2 separate regions of the Homo sapiens genome follow, and region 2 is linked to region 1. The links come from fine-mapping of genetic effects on gene expression. A gene starts in region 1. The other region holds a variant in brackets. All regions are shown on one strand. Distances are from middle to middle. Region 1 holds the start of TLE6 (TLE family member 6, subcortical maternal complex member). Region 2 overlaps TLE6 (TLE family member 6, subcortical maternal complex member).

Region 1 (9,688 bases):
TTTTTTTTTTTTTTTTTTTGAGACAGAGTCTCGCTGTCGCCCAGGCTGGAGTGCAGTTCCACGATCTTGCCTCACTGCAATCTCCACCTCCCGGGTTCAAGCAATTCTCCTGCCTCAGCCTCCCAAGTAGCTGGGACTACAGGCGCCCGCCACCACGCCTGGCTAATTTTTTTATTTTTAGTAGAGACGGGGTTTCACCATGTTGATCAGGCTGGTCTCGAACTCCTGACCTCAAGTGATCCACCCTCCTCGGCCTCCCAAAGTGCTGGGATTACAGGTTTGAGCCACTGTGCCCGGCCCCCCTCTGTGCTTTCTCATGCCTTTCATGGAGGGACAGCCGCACCCCTGAGCTCCTGGTCACCCACCTGCTTGTGATGTTCTGCCACATCCTGCTGGATCTTGTGCAGCTGCAAAGGGAAAACAGAGATCCCATCGGGAGGTGGTCCGGGTGTGAATGCTGTGTGACCCTGGGCAAGCTGCTCTACCTCTCTGGCCCCTACTCCCCCACCTTAAATTTTTGTTTTCACCTTGTTTTCTCTTTTACTTTCTTACTACACTGATGTATGGTCCCTACCTTTTTTTTCCTCAGAGAGAGTCTTGCTCTGTTACCTGGGCTGCAGTACAGTGTGATCTCAGTTCACCGCAACCTCTGCCTCCTGGGCTCAAGCGATTCTCCTGCCTCAGCCTCCCGAGTAGCTGGGAGTACAGGCACCTGCCACCATGCCCGGCTAATTTTTGTATTTTTAGTAGAGACAGGGTCTCTACTATGTTGGCCAGGCTGGTCTCCAACTCCTGACCTCAGGTGATCCACCTGCCTCGCCCTCCCATAGTGCTGGGATTACAGGCGTGAGGCACAGTGCTTGGCGGAAAAGAACCTCTCTAGGGCACTCAGGAGGCAGGGCCGGGAAACCAGGGCCTCAGCTTGTCCCAGTGGGGCCCTCCTTGGTTGGGGCTGCCTGGGTCTGGCTCACCGAGTAGTAAATGCTCTCCAACTCCGCAGCAAAATGAGGAGAAAACCTGAGGGGGAAGGAGGACAGGCTGGAAGACCTGTGGCTTCAGGACTCCCTCCCCAGAGTGAGCCCCACCCTCAACCCCTAGGGAGGGTCTCAATGAAGCTGGAAGGCACTGGCTCCAGAAGCCAAATTTAAGGCAGTGTCAAGAAGTTCAGTAAGATTTTAATGCAGTATATTCTTTTTTTTTTTTTTTTGAGACAGAGTCTCACTCTTGTCACCCAGGCTGGAGTGCAGTGTCACTGCAACCTCCGCCTCCTGGGTTCAAGAGATCCTCCTGCCTCGACCTCCCGAGTAGCTGGGATTACAGACACCTGCCACCACACCCAGCTATTTTTTTGTATTTTTAATAGAAACAGTGTTTCACCATGGTGGCCAGGCTGGTGTCAAACCCCTGACTCCAGGTGATCCGCCCACCTCGGCCTCCCAAAGTGCTGGGATTACAACAGGCTTGAGCCACCGCGCCCCGCCACTTTCTTCAATTTTTTTTTTTTTAAACAGAATCTCACCCTGTTGCCCGGGCTAGGGTGCAGTGGTACAATCATGGCTCACTGCAGCCTCCAATTCCTGGGCTCAGATGATCCTCCTGCCTCAGTCTCCTGAGTAGCTGGGACTACAGGTGTGCACCACCACACTCAGCTAGATTTTTTTTATTTTTTAAGAGATGGCATCTCGCTATGTTGCCAAGGCTGGTATTGAACTCCGGGCTCAAGCGATCTTCCTGCCTCTGCCTCCCAAAGTGCTGGGATTACAAGTGCAAGCCACTGCACCCAGCCCATGCAGTACTTTTTTTTTTTTTTTTTTTTAAAGACCGAGTCTCACTCTGTAGCCTTAGGCTTGAGTGTAATGGTGTGATCCTGGCTCACTGCAACCCTCCGCCTCCTGGGTTCAAGAGATTCTCCTGCCTCAGTTTCCCAAGTAGTTGGGATTACAGGCACCCACCACCAAGCCTGGCTGATTTTTGTATTTTTTGTAGAGACGCGGTTTCACCATGTTGGCCAGGCTGATCTTGATCTCCTGACCTCAAGCAATCCGCCCGCCTCCGCCTCCCAAAGTGCTGGGATTACAGGTGCGAGCCACCATACCCAGCCGTTGCAGTATTTTTCAACAATAAAATTGAATGCCAACAAATCCATGTCGAACAGGAAAATCAAAATTTTAATATTTGTTGGTAATTTTGTTTAATCAAAAGCTGGGATGGGTATTGCCGGGTTCTCCATGCTGGGTATCTGCATGGCTTCCTGTTCCTGAGCCTGGCTCTTGGGCCAGCAGCCTCTAGACCACTCACTAGGACCCCCGGGAGAGAGGCCAGGTGGGGCTCCTTCCCAGCGTGAGACCTCCGGCCCCTGGAATTGCTCTCACCTGGGGAACTGCTTGAGCCGATTTAGAATGCCCTGATAATTCAGCGTCGGAGAGCTCTCAGAGTTCGAGATCCCAGGACAAGGCTGGAAAGGTCAAAGCAAGGTTACATAAAACTTACAATGCTCCAACACCCAAGACCCCCGGTCTCCACCTCAACATGGCATAGGCATTAGGTTGGTGCAAAAGTAATTGTGGTTTTTGCTTTTTTTTTTTTTTTTGGAAACCGAGTCTTGCTCTGTCGCCCAGGCTGGAGTGCAGTGGCACAATCTCAGCTCACTGCAAACTCTGCCTCCCGGGTTCAAGCGATTCTCCTGCCTCAGCCTCCCGAGTAGCTGGGATTACATGCGCCCGCGCCCCCCTCCCCCGCCCGCCCCCGGCAACACACCTGGCTTATTTTTGTATTTTTAGTAGAGATGGGGTTTCACCATCTTGGCCAGGCTGGTCTCAACCTCCTGACCTCATGATCTACCCGCCTCGGCCTCCTAAAGTGCTGGAATGACAGGCATGAACCACCGCGCCCGGCCTCTCTTATTTCAGTAAAGAGCATCTTCCATTTTGCACTTTGGCCTAAAGTCTAAAATGTTCACCACATTCTTGTGATGAAAATAGAAGCACAAAATATTTTTAAAAATAAAAGTCCGGGCAAGGTGGCTCATGCCTGTAATCCCAGCACTTTGGGAGGCCGAGGTGAGCAGAACACCTGAGGTCAGGAGTTTGAGACAACCCTGGGCAACTCAGCAAAACCCCGTCTCTACTGAAAATACAAAAATTAGCCGGGCGTGGTGGCGCGCACCTGTAATCCCAGCTACTCGGGAGGCTGAGGCAGGAGAATCACTTGAACCTGGGAGGTGGAGGTTGCAGTGAGCCGAGATCGCGCCACTGCACTCCAGCCTGGGCAACAAGAGCAAGACTCAATAAAATAAAGTCTCTTGGCCAAGTGTGGTGGCTCACACCTATAACCCCAGCACTTTGGGAGGCTGAGGCAGGCAGATCACGAGGTCAGGAGCTCGAGACCAGCCTGGCCAACATGGTGAAACCCAGTCTCTACTAAAAATACAAGAAAAATTTGGTGGTCATGGTGGCAGGTGCTTGTAGTCCCAGCTACTCGGGAGGCGAGGCAGGAGAATCACTTGAACCCGGGAGGCAGAGGTTGCAGTGAGCTGAGATTGCGCCATTGCATTCCAGCCGAGGTGAGTGTGAGACTCCGTCTCAAACATAATAAAATCATAAAGTCTCAAAACAAAATATCCCTCATCTGACTCCTTTACAAAAAAAAACGTCTGCTCAGCCCTGAGAGCCTAAATTTACAAATGGTCATCTCTGGGACGCAAAGTGCAGGGAGCGGGGATTGCTTGTAAAACATCAACCAAATACATGATGTGTTCCTGTGTTTTTATCACATATGTGATTAGATGCTACATTTTTTTTTAGATGGGATCTCACTGTCACCAAGGATGGAGTGCAGTGGCACCATCATAGTTCACTGCAGCCTCAAACTCCTTGGGCTCAAGCCAACCCTCTGCCTCAGCCTCCCAAGTAGCTGCAACTACAGGCCCACGTCACTAGGCCCAGCTGATTCTTCTAGTTTTATTTTTTACAGAGACAGGGTCTCACTACGTTGTCCAGGCTGGTTTCAAACTCCTGGGCTCAAGTGGTCCTCCTGCCTCGGCCTCCAAAAATGTTGAGATTACAGTTGTGAGCCACAGTGTCCAGCCTACACTTAATTTTTTTTAAAAAACACGGCTCCTTGGCACCTGTCTTGAGTGTAGCAGCGACCAGTATTGTCTTCAGCTGCGAGGCCTGGGCGGGGCCAGCCCAGGTCACAGGTGGAAAAGGGGCAGAACCACATTGGGCCCGGGTTTCCCTTGAGGGCTGATCCCACCACATGCCCTCCTCACCGAAGTGCTTTTCGGGGGGCCCTTGGGTCTGGGCTGGTCCCTAGAGGTCATCTTCAAGGCAGTAGCCTCCAAGACTTTAGCCAGAGTCTAAAACAACAAGGAGACGGCAGGTCTTGAGGGACAGAAAATAAGGCAGTGCCAGGGAAGCAAGGCACCCGTTACCCCACCCGCACCTCCCAGTTTGGTAAGTCTCCAGGGACCCAATCCTGCGGTTCTCCCATGCGTTCCCTAGGTCCTGTCCTCACTTATCAATGCCTCCAGCTGCCCAGATTCATGGGGGCGGGGACCCAGAAAGAACTGAGCCTTGCCTCCCAGGCCTCACCCTAGGAGGCTGGGGTGGATAGTGCACATACACTCCCTGCTGGGGGCAGTCAGGGACGGGGGAGCCCAGGGAAGGTCGCCAAAGCTCAACCTTAGTTTTGAGACAATTTCCTAAAGCGCAGGGAGATCACTAGAAAGGGGTTTTGAAGGATGACTAGGAGTTAGCCAGGTGCATTAGGCGGAATTCATCAGACAGAAGAAACGACCTCTCTCCACCTCCATCCCTGCTGCAGCACCCAGCTTCTTCCTTGCCTCAGTCCTGCCCCTCCACGCCCCTGCAGCCCCTTCCCCGGCCGGGAATCCTGGAGTCCCCCCAGCCCCCTAGAACACGCCTGGCAACTCACGTCCCTCACCGGGCGGAAGCTGCGGAGGTCAGCCAAGTTCAGGCCAAGAGGAAACTCCTCCTTCCCCCACCGGGGGCCATTTGACCCATCGGGCCCCGCCTCGTCCCGCCTTGTCCCCGCCCCGTCCCGCCCAGGCCCCACCCAGCCGCCACCTGGACCGCGAAGCAGATCAATGAAGGCGCAGTAGCTGCACGTGGGTTCGGGCTCCGGGGGGGGCAGGCCTCTGGCGGCGCCGGCCAATAGCGAGGCCGTTTACGCACGTGGGTCGCGTACGCCCTCCCTGATTGGTCGGCTCTCCCCGGCCGCCGGCCATGCTGTCACTCAGCGAGCCGGGAGCCTCTGCTTTACCCTTTCGGTCCCGCTGCCGGGAAGGGCGGACTTGCAGAGCTATAGGCAATTTGGGGTCCCAGCGGGGGCGGGGATATTTAGGAGGGCGTGGGGCTTGAGGCTCAGAGGCTGGAACTTGGGCAGGGATAGGTGGCGAGTAGTTGCATTGTTTTACGCATTTTTAGCCTTGTCCGGAAGTGGCTTATGGCTGGAGGTGAGGAGTGGGAGGTGGGTGGGTTCAATCTTTAGCGCTGTCACCCCAATTCTTAGATACGGGCTAATTACATTTTCCTCAATATTAAATAACGTGCAATGCAAACGAAGCTTCAAGTCCTCTTTCTGGAGCCAACTTACTGGGTCCCCTTGATGGTCCCAGCCCCGGGCTATGCATTTATCACCGAATTTTCCCAACTGCTCTTCCAGCCCAGTGACAAAGGCTCTGAGAGCAGAAAGCGGGACAGCAGAGGCCCTGAGGCTGATACAGTATTGCCGGATGCAAGCGCGGGGTGGGAGAGAGTGGTGGGTATTCCAGACGGAGGGAATAGCGGAACCTCTCAGGCAGAGCTGGGCTGGTTACAGGAGCAGCCAGGGAGGCTAACGGGGCTGCGTGCACTCCGAACAGGCCTGGGATGATTTCCGAGAGGTAAGTGGGTTGCTGCAGAGCGAGAGAAACCTGCTGTGTGGGGTCGTGGGGATAGGAGTAAGGGGATTTCGGAGTTTTGTTTTGGCCTATTCAAAATATGAAGCCAAGTCACCATGGCTCACACCTGTGATCCCAGCATTTTGGAAGGCTGAGGTGGGAGGATTGCTTGAGGCCAGGAGTTGGAGACCAGCCTGGGCAACACAGTGACACCGCGTCTCTACAAAAAATTTAAAAATTAGCCAAGTGTGGTGGTCATGCACCTGTAGTCTCAGCTACTGGGGAGGCTGAGGCAGGAGGATGGCGTAAGCCCAGGAGGTTGAGTCTGGAGTGAGCTATGATCGTGCCACTGCACTCCAGTCTGAGCAACAGAGCAAGACTCCATCTCAAAAAAATATATAGCTATAATATATATAAAGTATATATATTATATATATAGTGGTCAAGCTGCAGTTCTGGAGTGAGAGCCCGTTTCTTTCTGTTTGGCCCAGGACCTGGTACTGGCATTAGCAGTTCACTCTGCCAGGGACAGTCTCTCTCAGACAGCCACCGGCTGGCTCCTTACTCCCTCAGCTCCCTACTTAGAAATCACCACGTTGGGCCAGGTGCTGTGGTGCACGCCTGTAATCCCAGCACTTTGGGAGGCAGAGGTGGGTGGATCATCTGAGGTCAGGGGTTCGAGACCAGCCTGGCCAACATGGTGAAACCCCAGCTTGGCCGGGTCACACCTGTAATCCCAGAACTTTGGGAGGCCGAGGCGGGTGGATCACGAGGTCAGGAGATCGAGACCATCCTGGCTAACACGGTGAAACCCCATCTCTAATAAAAAATACAAAAAAATTAGCCGGGCGTGGCGGTGGGTGCCTGTAATCCCAGCTACTGAGGAGGCTGAGGCGGGAGAATGGCGTGAACCCGGGAGGCGGAGCTTGCAGTGAGCCAAGATTGCGCCACTGCACTCCAGACTGGGCGACAGAACAAGACTCTGTCTCAAAAAAAAAAAAAAAAAAAGAAAACCCCAGCTCTACTAAAATACAAAAATTAGCCAGGCATGGTGATAGGCACCTGTAGTCCCAGCTACTCTGGAGGCTTAGGCAGAAGAATCACTTGAACCTGGGAGGCGGAGGTTGCAGTGAGTCGAGATTGTGCCACTGCACTTCAGCCAGGGTGACACAGCAAGACTCTGTCTCAGAAAAAAAAAAAAAAAATCACCACATCAGGCCAGGCGTGGTGGCTCACGCCTGTAATTCCAGCACTTTGAGAGGCCGAAGCAGGAGATCACTTGAGGTCAGGAGTTCCAGACCAGCCTGGCCAACATGCTGAAACCCTACCTCTACTAAAAATACAAAAATCAGCCGGGCACGGTGATGCACATCTGTAATCCCAGCTACTTGAACCTGGGAGGCAGAGGTTGCAATGAGCCAAGATGTCGCCATTGCACTCCACCCTGGGCGACAGAGTACTCTGCCTCAAAAGAAGAAAAGAGTTCATGACCAGCCTGGCCAACATGGCAAAACCCCATCTCTACTAAAAATACAAAGGTCAGCTGAGTGTGGTGGCAGACGCCTGTAATCCCAGCTACTTGGGAGGCTGATGCAGGAGAATCGCTTGAACCCGGGAGGTGGAGGTTGCAGTCAGCCAGGATCGTGCCATTGCACTCTAGCCTGGGCAACAAGAGTGAAACTCCATCTCAAAAAAAAAAAAAGAAGGGAGGGAGGGAGGGAAGGAAGGAAGGAAGGAAGGATCTCATTGAAGAGACCTCCCAACCCTCCCTTCCCTTCCCTATATTTCCCTTTATTTCCTCTTTTTTTTTTTAAACACAGGGCGAGGGGGAGGGGAGTCTCAGTACATTGCCCCGGCTGGTCTTGAACTCCTGACCCCAAGTGATCCTCCCACCTCCACCTCCCAAAGTACTATGGATTACAGGCATGAGCCACTGTGCCGCCACCGGGCCTGTATCTCCCTTTCTTATTTTATTTTTTTCCGAATGTGGTTTGGATTGCAGCTAATCTTGTAATCTCAGTGGCTCCTGTGGCGGGAGCCTCCCACGATAGCTCTAAGCCCTGCATGTTCTAAATGCAGAGAATGCTGTCAGGATTCTCCTACAGAGACGCCTCCCATCCTCTGACCTCCCCATGTGACACAAATGCCCGATAGGTCTGCTGACTTCAGATCCAAACCCAGCCAGAGAAACTCTTCCCTGTTTTCTGTTCTGTGCTCTCTCGCTGCGGGGAACTGAGGGTTTCAATGCTGGGACAAGTAGCCCCCAGAGGTGGTGATGTGCACACGTGACTTGGGTTTTGCAGCTGGTCCATGGAGAACAAAGGGAGGGGCCGTCATGAAAGACCTGCAGAAAAGCTTCCCACCCACGAACCCTCCACTGTCCCATAATTATTATTTTTTAATTTTTATTACTTATTTTTTTGAGACAGAGTCTCTCTCTGTCCCTCAGGCTGGAGTGCAGTGGCGCGATCTTGTCTCACTGCATCCTCCACCTCCCAGGTTCAAGCGATTCTCCTGCCTCAGCCTCCCAAGTAGCTGGGACTACAGGCGCCCGCCACCACACCCGCCTAATTTTTGTATTTTTAATAGAGATGGAGTTTCACCATATTGGCCGGATCGGTCTCAAACTCCTGATCTTGTGATCCACCTGCCTTGGTCTCCCAAAGTGCTGGGATTACAGGTGTGAGCCACCACGCCTGGCTATTATTATTATTTTTTTGTGACAGAGTCTTGCTCTGTCGCCCAGGCTGGAGTGCAGTGGCACGATCTTGGCTCACTGCAACCTTTGCCTCCTGGGTTCAAGCGATTCTTCTACCTCAGCCTCCTGAGTAGCTTGGATGACAGGCGCCCGCCACCACACCACCTCCAGCTAATGTTGTATTTTTAGTAGAGATGGAGTTTCACCATGTTGGCCAGGATGGTCTCAAACTCCTGACCTCAAGTGATCCACTCATCTCGGCCTCCTAAAGTGCTGGGATTACAGGCGTGAGCCACTGCACCCAGCTGCATAATTAAAGTGTGTTTTATTTATGGTCCAGCCTCCTAATATGGGCTTTGCTTTTTCCCCTCCCTCTGATTGTAGACTTTCAGCTGGGCACGTTGCTTTATCCAAGACTCACAGGGTTGTCTCACAGGGTATCCAGTAAGCACATGTGGCTATTTAAGTTAAAATTAATTAAAATGAAATACAATTTAAAATTCCATTCCTCAGGCACCCTGCCCGCATGTCAGGCGCTCAGTCGTCACTGGCGTCTGGGGGTCACCGTACTGGACAGCGAAGATCTAGAACATTCTGTCATCACAGAAAGTCCCAGTGGACAGCACTGATTGGAGGCTCCTAGGAAAGAGAAATTCCTCCAGGGTCCATGTAGAAATCGGAAGCACATTTTCAGTAGTCATTCCATTTCTACTCTTTTTTTTTTTTGAGAAGGGGTCTCACTCTGTTGCTCAGGCAGGAGTGCAATGGTGCAACCTCAGCTCACTGCAACCTCCACCTCCCGGGTTCAAGCGATTCTTCTGCCTCAGCCTCCTGAGTGGCTGGTATTACAGGCACGTGCCACCACACTCGGCTAATTTTTGTATTTTTAGTAGAGACAGGGTTTCATCATGTTGGCCAGGCTGGTCTCGAACTCCTGACTTCAGGGGATCCACCCCCACCTCGTTCTCCCAAAGTGTTGAGATTACAGGCCTGAGCCTTTTTTTTTTTTTTTTTTTTTGAGACAGGATCTCACTCTTGCTCAGGCTGGAGTGCGGTGGCACAATCTTGGCTCCCTGCAGTCCCAACCT
Region 2 (9,688 bases), 20 kb before region 1:
AATATCCAAAGGGGCTCGTAGGCTGACATGGTGGCTCACACCTGTAGTCCCAGCACTTTGGGAGGCCGAGGCGGGCAGATCACTTGAGGTTGGCAGTTTGAGACCAGCCTGGCCAATACGGTGAAACGCCGTCTTTACTAAAAATACAAAAATTACCCGGGCGTACTAGCAGGTACCTGTAATCCCAGCTACTTTGGAGGCTGAGGCAGGAGAATCCCTTGAACCTGGGAGGCAGAGGCTGCAGTGAGCTGAGACTGCAACATTGCACTCCAGCCTGGGTGACACAGTGAGACTCTGTCTCAAAAAAAAAAAAAGATTATCCAGCGTGATGGTGCATGCCTGTAGTCTCAGCTTCTGGTGCTGAGGCAGGAGGATCTCTTGAGCCCTGGAGGTCAAGGCTGCAGTGAGCCATGATTGTGCCACTGCACTCCAGCCTGGGTGACGGAGTGAGACCCTGTCTCAACACAAAACAAAGAGGGGCTCGTGACCCCATCTCTTCCCTCTTTACCCCCAGATTTTCTCCCTGGGCCACTGCCCTAACCAGGACTGGCTGGCGGTCGGAATGGAGAGTAGCAACGTGGAGATCCTGCACGTCCGCAAGCCGGAGAAATACCAGCTGCACCTCCACGAGAGCTGCGTGCTGTCCCTGAAGTTTGCCTCCTGCGGTGTGTCTTCTGGGGCGGGGTGGCACGCCCTCAAAACCCCAACAAAACCCAGGGTGCCTATTCAATCTGAATCTTAGATAAATAACAAATAATGTTATTTATATACTAAGTTTTATATACTCAAAAGCAAATCGTTAGTACAAGTATATCCCAAATGGTGTGTGGGATATACTTATACTAAAAACCAAATAATGAAGTATTTGGGATATACCTGTCCTAAAAATTACTGATGACTTATCTGAGATTCAAATTTAAGGCTGGGTGTGGTAGCTCACGCCTGTCATCCCAACACTTTGGGAGGCCAAGGCAGGCAGATCACCTGAGGTCAGGAGTTCGAGACAAGCCTGGCCAACATGGTGAAACCCTGACTCTATTAAAAGTACAAAAATTAGCCAGGCGTGGTGGTGGGCGCCTGTAATCCCAGCTACTTGGGAGGTTGAGGCAGGAGAATTGCCTGAACCCGGGAGGTGGAGGTCGCAGTGAGCCAAGATCATGCCACTGCATTCCAGCCTGGGAGACAAGAGTGAGATTCTATCTTAAAAAAAAAAAAAAAAAAAAAAAGAAAGAAAAGAAATTTAAGCCAGGCACAGTAGCTGATGTGTGTAGTTTCAGCTACTTGGGAGGCTAAGGCAGAAGGATCGCCCAAGACCAGGAGTTCAAGACCAGCCTGGGCAACATAGCAAGACTTTCTCTACAAAAAAATTAAACAGCCAGTAGGTCGCACCTGTAGTGCCAGGTACGAGGGAGGCTGAGGCAGGAGGATTGCTTGAGCCCAGGACTTTGAGGCTGTAGGGAGCTATGATGACATCACTGCCCTCCAGCCTGGGCAATACAGTGAGACCCTATCTCTTTTTAAAAAAAAATCATTCATTAGTGTAAGTATATCCTAAATAGTACATGGGATATCTTATACCAAACAAACAAACAAACAAAACTTGGGCTGGGCACAGTGGCTCACACCTGTAATCCCAGCACTTTGGTAGACCACGGTGGGAGGATCGCTTGAGGCCAGGAGTTTGAGACCAGTCTGGGCAGCATAGTGAGATCCCAACTCTACAAAAAATATTTTTTTTTTTTTTTGAGACAGAGTCTGACTGCGTTACCCAGGCTGGAGTGCAGTGGCGCAATCTCAGCTCACTGCAACCTCTGCGTCCTGGGTTCAAGCGATTCTCAAGCCTCAGCCTCCCAAGTAGCTGGAGTTACAGGTGCCTGCCACAATGCCCAGCTGATTTTTGTATTTTTAGTAGAGAAGGGGTTTCACCATGTTGGCCAGGATGGTCTCAAACTCCTGACCTCAAGTGACCCAGCCACCTCTGTCTCCCAAAGTGGGGATTACGGGTGTTAGCCACTGCCCCCGGCAAAAAATAAAAATATTAGCTGGGCGTGGTGGTGCACACCTGTGGTCCCAGCTGCTTGGGAGGAGCGCTTGAGTCCAGGTGGTGGAGGCTGCAGTGAGCTATGATTGTACCACTGCACTCCAGCCTGGGTGACAGAGCAAGACCCTTTCTTGGAAAAAAAAAAAAAAAAAGGGAGAGGCCAGACCCAGACCCAGCTTCCCCGACCTCCCCCTGCAGCCCGGGTCTCTCGTTAGTGCCCCCTCCTTGAACCCTGCTGCTCTCCTTCCCCAAGGACGGTGGTTTGTGAGCACCGGGAAGGACAACCTGCTCAACGCCTGGAGGACGCCGTACGGGGCCAGCATTTTCCAGGTACTCGGCGGTCTGGAGCCCCCACTCTGGCAGGGCCATGTGCCCGGGTATGCCAGGGTCAGACAGAGAGATTGCCCCTGTCCCTGTCCCCCAGGTCCCCCCGCCACCCTAACCCCTCCTCAGGGTCCTGCAAGCCTCCCTACCGCCCAGGTACTAAAGCAGAGGTTGGAATTTCAGCCGGAGGCCTCGCCTCATCTGCCCGTAGCCTGTTGGTTTTTCTAAAATTTAGTTGCAGTAACATGCATATAATATTATAAAATTTAAAATTTGCCAGCCGGGCACGGTCGCTCATGCCTGTAATCCCAGCACTTTGGGAGGCTGAGGCAGGCGGATCACGAGGTCAGGAGATCGAGACCACCCTGGCTAATATGGTGAAAACCCGTCTCTACTAAAAAAAATACAAAAAAATTAGCCAGGCGTGGTGGTGGGCGCCTGTAGTCCCAGCTACTCGAGAGGCTGAGGCAGGAGAATGGCATGAACCCAGGAGGTGGAGCTTGCAGTGAGCTGAGATCGCACCACTGCACTCCAGCCTGGGCGACAGAGTGAGGCTCTGCCTCAAAAATAAATAAATAAAAATAAAATTTGCCATCTTACTCATTTCTTCTTTTTTTTTGGAGACAGAATCTTGCTCTGTCTCCCAGGCTGGAGTGCAGTGTTGCGATCTCGGCTCACTGCAAGCTCCACCTCCCGGGTTCAATCGATTCTCCTGCCACAGCCTCCCGAGTAGCTGGGATTACAGGCATGTACCACCACGCCTGGCTAATTTTTGTATTTTCAGTAGAGAGGGGGTTTCACCATGTTGTCTAGGCTGGTCTCAAACTCCTGACCTCAGGTGATCTGCCTACCTTGGCCTCCCAAAGTGTTGGGATTACAGGCGTGAGCCACTGCGCCCAGCTGTTTTTCTTTCTTTTTTTTTTTTTGAGATGGAGTCTCACTCTGTCACCCAGGCTGGAGTGCAGCGGCACTATCTCTGCTTACTGCAAGCTCTGCCTCCTGGGTTCACACCATTCTCCTGCCTCAGCCTCCCGAGTAGCTGGGACTCCAGGTACCCGCCACCACACCTGGCTAATTTTTTGTATTTTTAGTAGAGACGGGGTTTCACCGTGTTAGCCAGGATGGTCTTGATCTCCTGACCTCATGATCCACCCGCCTTGGCCTCCCAAAGTGCTGGGATTACAGGTGTGAGCCACCACACCCAGCCTGTTTTTCAAATTTTATATCCCCATCAGCAGTGATTGAAATTTTAAAATTCTCTGCATCCTCACCAACACTTGTTATTGGCTGTCTTTTTAATATGCCCGTCCTGGTTGGTACAGTGTTTTTAATATGCCCGTCCTGGTTGGTACAGTGTTTTTTTGTTTTTTTGACACGGAGTCCTTCTCTGTCGCCCAGCCTGGAGTGCAGTGGCGCAATCTCAGCTCACTGCAGCCTCCACCTCCTGAGTTAAAGCGATTCTCCTCCCACAGCTTCCCAAGTAACTGGCATTACATGTGCCCGCCACCATGCCTGGCTAAGTTTTGTATTTTTAGTAGAGACGGGGATTCCCCACGTTGGCCAGTCTGGTCTGGAACTCCTGACCTCAGGTGATCCACCTGCCTCGGCCTCCGGAAGCGCCGAGCCACCGTGCCAACCCTTTATATTTTCAAAGGGTTGTAAGAAAAAAATCCCAGAATATGTGACATGGACTTATTTAGACTTTAGGCAAAGCCTAAAATGTTTACCAGGCCCTTTGTGAAGTTTGCTGATCCCTGGTCTAAGCCATTGCCTTGGCCCTCTGCTGTGCTGTGTGACATCATGCCTGGTGCACACCCACTCTGAGCTTCCAGAAAGGGCAGCACTTCAGTTCCATCTCTCTTGGTATTGAGGGAATGGAGGCCCTGTTCTGCCCATTGGACTTAGCTCCAAAGCACCTGTCTGTAGAAAACAAGTCGCTCTGCCGGGCGCGGTGGCTCACGCTTGTAATCCCAGCACTTTGGGAGGCCTAGGCGGTGGATCGCCTGAGGTCAGGAGTTTGAGACTAGCCTGGCCAACATGGGGAAACCCAGTCTCTACTAAAAATACAAAAATTAGGCCGGGTGCGGTGGCTCATGCGTGTAATCTCAACACTTTGGGAGACCAAGGCAGGCGGATCACCTGAGGTCAGGAGTTCAAGCCCAACCTGGCCAACATGGTGAAACCCTGCCTCTTCTAAAAATACAAAAATTAGCCAGGCATGGTGGCATGCACCTGCAATCCCAGCTGCTTGGGAGTTCGAGACAGGAGGATTGCCTGAACCTGGGAGGCGGAGGTTGCAGTGAGCAGAGATCACACCATTGCACTCTAGCCTGGGCAACAGAGTTAGACCCTGTCTCACAAAAAAAAAAAAAAATTACACACACACACACACACACACACACACACACACACACATTGGCCGGGCGTGGTTGCGGGCGCCTATAATCCCAGCTATTTGGGAGGCTGAGGCAGGAGAGTGTCTTGAACCCGGGAGGTGGAGGTTGCAGTGAGCCAAGATCGCACCACTGCACTTCAGCCTGGGCGACAAGAACAAAACTCCATCTCAAAAAAAGAAACACGTCACTCTGTAGGCGAGTCCTGACCTCCCGTTCCTGACTCCGCCCCAGCCTTGCCCACACACCCATCTGTGGGGACCATGCCTCACTGTGCCCTTTTCTCTCTCCCTTCCCTTGGCAGTCCAAGGAGTCGTCCTCAGTCCTGAGTTGTGACATCTCCAGAAATAACAAATACAT[C/T]GTGACAGGCTCGGGGGACAAGAAGGCCACCGTGTATGAGGTGGTCTACTGAGACATGACCCCCCTTCCTGTACCCGAAGTCCAGACTCCCAGGGGAATCAGCAGCCAGGACAGACATCCTAGCAGCCGCCTCCCAGCCCTGCCTAGGAACCGTACATCCCATCTGCTCTCTGGCCAACGGCTTCACACCTTCCCCTGCTGCATGTGGGGGCCGATGGGCAGGGGACCTCGGTGGAAATAAAATGTATCTATCACATCCGCACTTCTCTCTCGGGCTGGGGAACCGGTGATCATTGTTCCTCTTGGGCACGGTTACTGGGAGGCAACCATGTCCTGGGGATGGGGTCATACGTAACGAGAATTCTTTCTGCAGGATATTCAGAGGTGTCTGCCTGGTATGTGAGAGCCACTCTGAGACACAGGAGTTGCGCTGGGCAGGATCGTTAAGATGCTGTTGCGTAACAAGTAGTCCCCGAGTCTCAGGGTTCATGCATTTTTTCCTTGCTCATACCCACATGGTGTACGGGGCTCTACTCCAGGTAGTCACTCAGGCCTCCGGGTAGAAATTTTTTTGAGACAGTCGCACTCTGTCTCCCAGGCTGGAGAGTACAGTGGTACGATCTCAGCTCACTGCAACCTCTGCCTCCTGGGCTTAAGCAATTCTTCTCCCTCAGCCTCCCGAGTAGCTGGGATTACAGGAACACCACCACACCCAGCTAATTTTTGTATTTTTAGTAGAGACAATGTTTCTCCATGTTGACTAGGCTGGTCCCAAACTCCTAACCTCAGGTGATCCACCCACCTCGGCCTCCCAAAGTGCTGGGATTACAGGCGTGAGCCACTGCACCTGGCTAGATTCCAAGGATTTCTAAGAGCCCTGCGCATGGCAAAGGGCTGAGCAAACGTCCCTGCCCAGTGGAGGGGAGGGGTACACTGAGCACTAAGGGATGAGAAACAGCCCCCAGAGCCCTGAGAAGACTGTTCTGGAAAGAGGAGAATGGCGGATGCGATATCTCAGAGGCAAGGGGAACTCGGCCTGGTGGTTACCCAGAAGACAGCCAGGTTCTGGAGAACGAGGCCTGCAGACAAGGCTTCAGTGGGGAGCGGGGAGAGTGGGGGGCAATCAGCCCCGTGTTCTGGAAGCTCAGGTGGGCTACCACGTACAGCAAGGGTTAGGACCGGTGCTGGGGCTCACACCTGTCATCTGAACACTTTGGGAGGCTGAGGCGGCAGGATTGCTTGAGCCCAGGAGTTTGAGACCAGCCTGGGCAATAGTGGGACTCCATCTCTAGAAAAAAAATTTAAGGCAGCATAGGTTGGGCGGAGTAGATGCCGCTGGGAACATTCTAGAAGGAGATGGGAGGGTTCCTGCTGAGAACAGAAGGCACGCCCTGGTGGATGTTTCTGGAGACACCGCAGGAAAGGGGATAATTCTCTGGGTTAAGGAGCCTAGGCCCGTTGACATCTGGGCCCCTTCATAGCTTGGAAAAGGGAGGGTGGGCAAGTGGCGTTTCCAGAGCCCTAGCTTGTGTGGGAAGAAGGCCGACCAGTGAAGCTATTGGAAATTTGTTTCGACCTTAGCACTGTGGACCTCGGGACTGGACCATCCTCTGGGGTGGGGCCGTCTTGGGCACCACAGAATGGTGAGTAATGTCCCTGCCCCCACCCACTCCATGCCAGGGGGACCCCACAAGTCGTGACAACCAGAAATGCCTCCAGACATCGCCTAGAGTCCCCGGGGGGCAGAATCACCCTACTGGAGACTACTGGTCAAATGGGACATGTCTAGGACAGGACCACTCACACTGCTCCTGGAATCACACCAGAAACATCGGACCAGATTGGAGCTGCTCCGGGCGGCGGAGGTGGAGATCTGCTACCCCAACAGCAAAGTCTGTGGCTGTGACTAGATTCCCAGAGAACGAGGACGGAAACGGCTCAGAGGGCTGGGCACGGTGGCTCATGCCTGTAATCCCAGCACTTTGGGAGGCCAAGGTAGGAGGATCGCTTAAATCAGGAGTTTGAGACCAGGCACAGTGGCTCACGCCTGTAATCCCAGCACTTTGGGAGGCCGAGGTGGGAGAATCACATAAAATCAGGAATTTGAGACCAGCCTGGGCAACAGAGCAAGACCCTGTGTCTACACAAAATTTTGTTATTTCTATTAATTTGAGACAGAGTCTCGCTCCGTTGCCAGGTTGGAGTACAGTGGCACGATCTTGGCTCACTGCAACCTCTACCTCCCGGGTTCAAGAGATTCTCCTGCCTCTGCCTCCTTAGTAGCTGGGATTACAGGCACGTGCCACCATGCCCAGCTAATTTTTGTATTTTTAGTAGAGATGGGGTTTCACTGTGTTAGTCTCAAACCCCCGACCTCAAAGTGCTGGAATTACAGGTGTGAGCCACCACACCCAGCATCTACAAAAAAATTAAACTAGCCGAGCACGGTGGTACATATATGTAGTCTCAACTACTCAAGAGGCTGAGGCAGGAGGATGGCTTGAGCCCAGGAGTTGGAGAGGCTGCAGGGAGTCGTGATGGCACCACTGCACTCCAGCCTGCATAACAAAGTGAGACCCTGCCTCAGAAAAAAAAAAAAAAAAAAAAAAAAAGGCTTAGAGCCACCAGGCTGGACGAAGTCCTTCCAGATTTCCACAAGTTGAGCAGGGACGGGATGGGAAGGCCCCTTTCCCTTCAGAGGACAGGACGCGTCCACACTCTGCCTTTCCCGGGTGCTTTATTACACGTGATGGCGACCAGTCTACACCACAGACTAGATCGTGCGATGCCACAGAAGAGCCTTCCCGCTTCCCTCCACCATGTCCCCCTTGTTGGGGGGGGGGAAGGGGGGGGATGAAAAGAGGAGCCGGAGTGGGATGACAGCAGCGAGGCCCCTCAGTAGGTGATCTGGTACACGGAGGCGTGCTCCCCGGAGCCTGTGACAACGAGGCGGTTGTTGGAAGAGACGTCACAGCACGTGACTGGAGACATCTCAGGCACCTGGAGGGGGGGCAGTGGGCAGTGAGCTGGGGTAGGGCTCACACACCCCTGGTCTCCACCTGTCAGCTCAAGCATGAAGCATCGTCTCTTCAAAGAAAGACAGGGTCTTGCTCTGTTGCCCAGGCTGGAGTGCAGTGGTGCAATCTCAGCTTGCTGCAGCCTCGACCTCCTGGACTCACACAATCTTCCTGCCTCAGCCTCCCAAGTAGCTGGGACCGCAGGTGTGCACCACCACACTCAGCTAATTATTATTTTTAATTTTAAAAGTGTTTTTAATTATTATTATTATTTTTTTAGATGGAGTCTCTGTCACCCAGGCTGGAGTGCAGTGGCACAATCTTGGCTCACTGCAAGCTCCGCCTCCCTGGCTCACGCCATTCTCCTGCCTCAGCCTCCCAAGTAGCTGGGACTACAGGCGCCCACCACCACGCCCAACTAATTTTTTGTATTTTTAGTAGAGACAGGGATTCACCGTGTTAGCCAGGATGGTCTTGATCTCCTGACCTCATGATCTGCCCGTCTCGGCCTCCCAAAGTGCTGGGATTACAGGCGTGAGCCACCGCACCCGGCTCAGCTAATTATTTTTTGTAGAGATGGGGTCTCACTATGTTGGCCAGGCTGGTCTCGAACTCCTACACTTAAGAGATCTTCCTGCCTCAGCCTCCCAAAATGCTGGGATTAAAGCCGTGAGCCACCACACCTGGCTACTTTTTAAGTTTTTTGTGGAGACAGGGTCTTGCTGTGTTGCCCAGGCTGGTCCCTTTGGGGCCACCCCCGGGTCCTGCCCCCAGCCCACCGCAGTACCTCGAACACTTTTGTCCCCGCCGGCATGCTGTAGACGCCAAGGAAGTCGTCCATTCCAACGCTTGCCCACCACTGGCCTGGGAGAAATGGAGCATCAGCGAGACTTAGAACCACTACCTTTTTCCTTCCCAGAGTTCATCCTCCCCACCCACCTTTTTTTTTTTTTTTTTTTTTTGAGACAGGGTCTCACTCTGTCACCCAGGCTGGACTACAGTCAGTGGTATGATCACAGTTCACTGTGGCCTCAGCCTCCCCGGGCTCATGGGGACACCAGTGGCTGAAGGGGGAAGGGCGGAGGCGGACCGCGCCGGTGGGGCGGGTGGGGAGGAAGGGCCCAGGCACCCACCCCCTTCCCTCCCTCATTCCACTATAAGAGCATCCCCAAAATTGGTTTCTGCTACAGAAGGGTTCTGAGGTGTCCTAGAGGGTTGGGTGGGGAGCTGGCATTAGGTGGGGTCTTGTGGGAGGCTGGGGGCTGCAGGGGAGTCCCCTCATCTTCCGCCAGCCGCTTACCAAAGGGGGAGAACTTGACGCTCAGGATGACGCTGTCTTTTTGCCCCACCATGTGCCGCTGGCTCCCGCTGGTGCTTTGCAGCCACTGCTGGCCATTGGCCATGCCCAGCAGCACCCAGTCCTCCTGGGGGCTGTGGGACAGGCTCATTATCTAGGTAATGGGCAGTGGGGAGGGAGGAACCTGGTTAGGTCCCAGCCTGGCCCAGGAAGCAGGCAGGAGCCTGGGGACCTATCCTGGAGGCCGGGTGACTGA

What was found.
Region 2: its variant is fine-mapped to the expression of TLE6 in cerebellum (GTEx, PIP above 0.99).

The regions. Positions count from the first base shown.
Region 1 is chr19:2,972,867-2,982,554 of GRCh38, reverse strand. TLE6 (TLE family member 6, subcortical maternal complex member) reads right to left here and starts at 4,991. Exons shown (of 17, transcript NM_001143986.2): 1 at 4,945-4,991; 2 at 4,271-4,357; 3 at 2,373-2,455; 4 at 972-1,017; 5 at 366-407. The coding sequence starts at 4,321. RefSeq lists an enhancer at 1-97 and a silencer at 4,960-5,269.
Region 2 is chr19:2,993,330-3,003,017 of GRCh38, reverse strand. It overlaps TLE6 (TLE family member 6, subcortical maternal complex member), which reads right to left. Exons shown (of 17, transcript NM_001143986.2): 15 at 9,436-9,586; 16 at 8,923-8,999; 17 at 7,839-8,118. The coding sequence ends at 8,014. TLE2 (TLE family member 2, transcriptional corepressor) reads left to right here. Exons shown (of 20, transcript NM_003260.5): 18 at 515-665; 19 at 2,295-2,371; 20 at 5,063-5,374. The coding sequence ends at 5,170. Among named protein-coding and RNA genes, the nearest start is that of TLE6, 21 kb to the right of the region's middle. The variant C/T (reference allele first, on the strand shown) is at 5,119.